2 separate regions of the Homo sapiens genome follow, and region 1 is linked to region 2. The links come from fine-mapping of genetic effects on gene expression. Tissue or cell type: fibroblasts. Region 2 holds a variant in brackets; the other region holds the start of a gene. All regions are shown on one strand. Distances are from middle to middle. Region 1 holds the start of ACP6 (acid phosphatase 6, lysophosphatidic). Region 2 has its middle 34 kb from the start of ACP6.

Region 1 (2,909 bases), 34 kb before region 2:
CCAGTCCTGCTGACCTCCCCCCTCATCCTGTGACTGAGAATGCCTAACCTCCTGGGAATGCAGCCCAGTAGGTCTCAGCCTCATTTTACCCAGCCGCTATTCAAGATGGAGTCACTATGGTTCAAATGCCTCTGACAGAATCACCTTCTAAAAGTCCTATGTCCAAATGCAGTCACTTAGTGGGTACGAATTTGGCGGGGGACACAACTGAGTCCATAGCAAACAGTATTCGATTTTTAATCACATCAGCACACACAATAAGACTCTGAAAAGTGAGTCCCTTGGCTGGGCTAGGGAGAAAATTGTGACAATATGTAGTGTTCCAAAATGACCCTCCTCCCTGCATCAGGGAGGGGAGCACTCAGAACCTTCCAGCTTGGTGAACAGAATTTGTTCTCAGGCCAGGAGCCATGCTCTGTAAGTATGTTGTCTTTACATCTGGCCCAGTTTGATCTTTGGAGATAGACACATAGTGGGTCCCAGATTGTGTCCTGTTGCAAAGATCTGGAAACACAGGCTTGGGATACCTGTATATCAACAGAAACCAGACTAGCAGGTGGTAAGGCTGGCATTGTTCTGTGTTCTTAGGTTTTTTTTTGTTTTTTTTTTGTAGACGGAGTCTTGCGCTGTTGCCCAAGCTGGAGTCGTGTGGCGCGATCTCGGCTCACTGCAAGCTCCGCCTCCCGGGTTCACGCCATTCTCCTGCCTCAGCCTCCTGAGTAGCTGGGACTACAGGTGCCCGCCACCACGCCTGGCTAATTTTTTTTTTTTTTTTTTTTTGTATTTTTAGTAGAGACGTGGTTTCACCGTGTTAGCCAGGATGGTCTCGATCTCCTGACCTCATGATCTACCCGCCTCGGCCTCCCAAAGTGCTGGGATTACAGGCGTGAGCCATGGCGCCTCTTAGGTTCTTAATCACTGGGACACCCACAGGCAAGGCCTGGCTTTTTCCACAAGAAGTATTCTGGATGGAAGTAAACACATCAGTGACCTGAAAGTTCTACATGATTACAATGACTTAAGCTTGAGAATTTTTTTAAAAACAGAGAAGGGAGTAGTAAATGACTAAATATAAAGCACCTAGTGCTGTGTTTCGCAAATGGCAATCACTCGGCAGGTGTCTCAGCTCCTCGCTGCAGCAACCAGGCTTCCAGGACTGGAAGGAAGTCTTCTACATTCAAAACTAGACTCAAACTACTCCCCTCCACCACCCAGTTCTACTCCTGCGCTCGCGATCCTCCTGCCTGGCAAACTCCATGGCCCGACAGATTCACTACCACTCCACTGCCGGACCAGGCACGTCCGTGGGCCATCCACGCCTGGAAAACGGCTGGCTGGGCCGGAGGGGCGAGGCCCGCAGGCGAGGGGGGCGGGTACAAGCCACTTCTTGGGAGCCGCGGTACGCGCAGCCTTGTGGGAGTTGTAGTTTCCGCAGCTCTGAGTCTCCAGGCGAGGTGTCACCACAGGACTCGTTTTCCCGTGCTCCTGTGCGCGGGTCCACTTGGGACGGGTCCCTGAGTAGGTGAGGAGGTGGGTAGGAGCTTGCTTATAGAAAAGTGGAATCGAGTAGTCCTTGCTGGTGGAGCCGCTGCCGCCAGGGAACTCAGGGCCGGCTCCTGTTCCTTCAAGAGTGCTGGAGGCCAAACTTGAAATACAAGTTTAATGTTCCTCGTCGGGCAAAAGATAAGGATCCGATCTCCCCCGGCCCGGTGTGCAGCAGGAGCGACCAACCCCGACCCGGGTTAAAACTCCCAGGGACTCTTCGCTGCTGCCACCTCTTGTTCTCTCCCCCGTTCCCACTCGGGGTCTCCCTCAGGGCCGGGAGGCACAGCGGTCCCTGCTTGCTGAAGGGCTGGATGTACGCATCCGCAGGTTCCCGCGGACTTGGGGGCGCCCGCTGAGCCCCGGCGCCCGCAGAAGACTTGTGTTTGCCTCCTGCAGCCTCAACCCGGAGGGCAGCGAGGGCCTACCACCATGATCACTGGTGTGTTCAGCATGCGCTTGTGGACCCCAGTGGGCGTCCTGACCTCGCTGGCGTACTGCCTGCACCAGCGGCGGGTGGCCCTGGCCGAGCTGCAGGAGGCCGATGGCCAGTGTCCGGTCGACCGCAGCCTGCTGAAGTTGAAAATGGTGCAGGTCGTGTTTCGACACGGGGCTCGGAGTCCTCTCAAGCCGCTCCCGCTGGAGGAGCAGGTGAGAGGTCGGCCCGGGCTGGGGCTGGTGGGGCGAGGACCGTGTGCCAGGCCAGGAGTCTCGCCCTGACACACATCTTCAGAGCTTTACTCGCGCGGAGCGGGGCTCGGGTTGGGTCCAGAAGAAGGGAAAACAGCAGTAGCCAGTGACTCCCCAGGCTCTTGAGCAAAGGACCTGCTGGGGTTAGGACAGCCCCGGAACTTCCAGTTTTGCCCTGATGGCGCAGCCATCAGTAAGCGCTGCTTAAGACGCATGGGAGTCGCCTGGGGATCCTGCTACGTTGCAGATTCTGATTCAGCAGGTGTGGAGTAGTGCCCCAGGTCAGCATTTCTATTAAGGGTCTAGGTGAACTTGAATACAAGGGTGCAGTGCACTTCTGTGTGACCATTTTGAAGGTGGTTTGTCAGAGCTGAAGGGCTGAAGGGACTTTAGTGATAGGAACCACTCTTAACTGAGATTACAGTGGATAAGAGGTCGTTGCCTTTGGAAACAAACTTTATAACTGCTTTTTCTCAGGGTTTGCTGGAGGCCATTTGAGATCTCCTGAAGTTTTTTTTTGTAACAAGTGTTGTATTCTAGGGTTCTCCTTTTCTATTTAAGGTTACTAAACCTATAGTGGGAGGGATCTGAGGTCGGAACAAATTTAAAATGGGCTAGTCTGTGGCAGTAATGTTTTAAAAATCTGTCTGGTTTTGTCAGGATAATTATGACTAAAG
Region 2 (2,909 bases):
TGAGAGCCAGACTTGGTAGCAGAGCTAGACAAGCTTGTCAATTGGAGAAAGACCATCAAGAGGAAGGGATCAAAGAGACAGAGGGCATATCAAATATTTGATTTATGTGGGCACTGAGGACCACACGCAGAACAGTATTGTGTAAGTTGCAGGGATGTATAGACTTGAGATCAACATAAGGAAAACCTTTGAAATAATCAGAGCTGACCATGGATGAATTGGGCTACCTTAGAGGGTTCTTTTATAAGCTTACACTGGCATTAGGCAAAGTATTGTAGAGGGTCACACACGGGCCAGTCCCTGCCTACCATGAGAATCTGAAGTTCTAGGATTCCACAGCATCCTTCATTCTCTGTGAACAGTTTGAGTCAGAGTCAGGCCTCATTTTGCTTTTCATGTGGTCAGGGATGGAGTTTGGTCCTCTAATTAGATGATTCTGAACTTTAAAAGCAGGAGGAGAGAAGTGCTTGAGAATCTGGTGACCCCAGTGTAACCTTATTAAAGTGTTGCTGTTATCCCCACCTTGGGCTGGCTGGGCCTGGGGACTCCAGTAGCTCTTGAAAATGCCTTCCTGCTGTGGCCACCACCATCCCATCATGGAATTTCCACTGTGGTGCTTCTTTCTCTATGGCTTTTCTGTGCTACCTTTCAGTGCCCAGGAGGGCAGCAAGAGGGGTCCCTGGGTGTCCCTTCTGAAAGAAGAATCATGATTTTCTGCTTCAGCTAGAACCCTCTTACTGCCCAGCTGGTGTATCTTGTGAGCTTTCTAATTTACCAGAGCAGCCATTTCATATCTTTTTGCATTACAGCCTAAGGCATCTCTCAAAAATGCTCTGATAACTCATACTAGGCATACACACATGTTGTCCGATAACAGTTTCACAAAAAGCCTATGACATCCAAATGTGAAGCAGCCAGCTCAAAGAGATCAAAGTCAAATATCCAGGGAGAGGCAGAGGCAGGACTCAAACTTTCACCTTTGACCTGAGGATCAGCATGTTTTCCTTCCATATCTGCACATCTGGCTTCCGGGATGTGTCCCTTTGTCTCTTTGCTTTATCTGCTTCATCACACATGGCACCTTTCTCCTTTCACTTCTGGTATCTTTCTTTCCCCAAAGCTTACCGCTACCTGTGCTTCAGTTCCTGTCCCGCTTCTTGTGATCTTCCTGCCAAAGATGGCAGGACTTCTTTTGTGTCCTCAATCCTTCCCACTCAATTGGTTCCTTCCTTTCTGTCTTAAATTAGTAGTACTTCTGTTGTCTTAAACTTTGCTTATTTATATTTTTCTTCTATCTAACCATCCTATTTCTCTTGCCTGGTACTGCCAAACGTACTGAGCATGTATAACTCAGTATCTCTTTGCCTCTTTCACATTTACACCCTTTCCCCCACATGCTTAGGTTTCTCTGTCTTCTGCTTTACCACAGCTACACTCTGGGAGACCAA[C/T]ACATTAATCAATTTCAAGTACCATCGTTAGTTTCCTCACCTTTTTTGATTGATCAGAAGTATTTGGCCCTGTGGACCACCTCCTATTTCTTGAAAGCCACTCCCCCAACCCCTCAGGACTTATGCAACTCTATATTTTCATAGCTGCCTTAGTCACTGATTCATTTTTATCTGGACAACCATTTCCTCATCAGTTAGATGGGAGAGGTGGGCTAGATCATTTCTGTTTTCTTCCTATTCTGTGAATTTCAGTTTCTTTTGCTGGAACTTCTTCCTGCCTGCGGACTGTGCCAATCCCTCATGACTGAGTTCTTGGCCCTCCACTTGGCTCTCTATTCTCTCACTCCCATAGAGAAATAATCTATATTCATCTCCATGTGGAGGAATTCACATCTCCATATCTAGTCCAAACTGCTCATTCATCCCTGTCTCTTATTTCCAACTGTCCACACATAGACACCACTTCATCATTTCATACTCAACACTCCCTCAACCCCAACAAGGACTTCTCCCCAACTTCCCTAATTTTTACTCATGATAATACTAGAAGCTTGGGCAAGATTGGGACAGGAAGAGGAAGCTAAGGGCTCTTAAGCTGTATTCTGAGAAAAAAAGTAATGAAGAAGTAAAAGATAGGCTCAGCGTCTGGGGGAGAAGATTTAATAGAGGAGAGAGAGAAAATGAAAGCAGTTAAATCCAAATCCCTCTCTTTCCTAGTAAGTCTTTCCTAACAACAGAATCTACCTTTAAGCCACAAATGGCCCAAGATTGCTGGGAGGGATTGAAATCTTAGAGCAGTGAGGACAGCACCTGGTTGATGTCAATGAGTTCGGATCTTCCTATTTGGTAGGTAATACCCTGGAGTAGATAAAAAGTTAAGTTATAGATGTCACTTCAGACAGTAATCTATGAGAAATGAAGATACTCTCAGATTTCTAGTCTCAAAGAACCAAAATACAAAGGCAAATGTGGCCCTAGTTTTTAAAACCCATAAAATGATAGACTCCAGAATTTAAGGACTGGAGAGCTCCTTGGTCTAGAGTGGACTTTTAAACAAAGGAAAAGTCTGTGGAGCACTTAGGAAAGAAAGCAGCAATCATTATTAGTACTTGGCTGAACTATTTCCTTTCTCCTTTGGGTTAACAGACCAGTAGATAGAAGATTCTCAGGAAATTTGATAAAATATTTTAGGTTGCACTTCCCTGTCTTCAATGTGGGCAGCTTCCTTTTCTTTCATGCCATGACTGTGCTTATAATTGCTTATTCAGTGTTTGACTTCTTCAATAGACTCTGGGTTTGATGAGCTCAGGGTGGGACCACTCCTGACCAGTTCACTGCTGCATCCACAGTTCCTAGCCTTGTAGAGACTGATGAATCAATCAAAGAGCCAATTACTCAATAGGTAGATGGAGAATGTGAGCTGGATGATAAGAGGTAGAATTATAAGTGATTACACAAGTA

What was found.
Region 1: ACP6 starts here. The variant in region 2 is fine-mapped to the expression of ACP6 in fibroblasts (GTEx, PIP above 0.99).

Annotation. Positions count from the first base shown.
Region 1 is chr1:147,669,114-147,672,022 of GRCh38, reverse strand. It overlaps ACP6 (acid phosphatase 6, lysophosphatidic), which reads left to right and starts at 1,499. Exons shown (of 10, transcript NM_016361.5): 1 at 1,499-2,193. The coding sequence starts at 1,975. RefSeq lists enhancers at 1,037-1,106, 1,547-1,796, 2,437-2,496, 1,708-2,651.
Region 2 is chr1:147,634,633-147,637,541 of GRCh38, reverse strand. It overlaps a transcript of ACP6 not described here. Among named protein-coding and RNA genes, the nearest start is that of ACP6, 34 kb to the left of the region's middle. The variant C/T (reference allele first, on the strand shown) is at 1,449.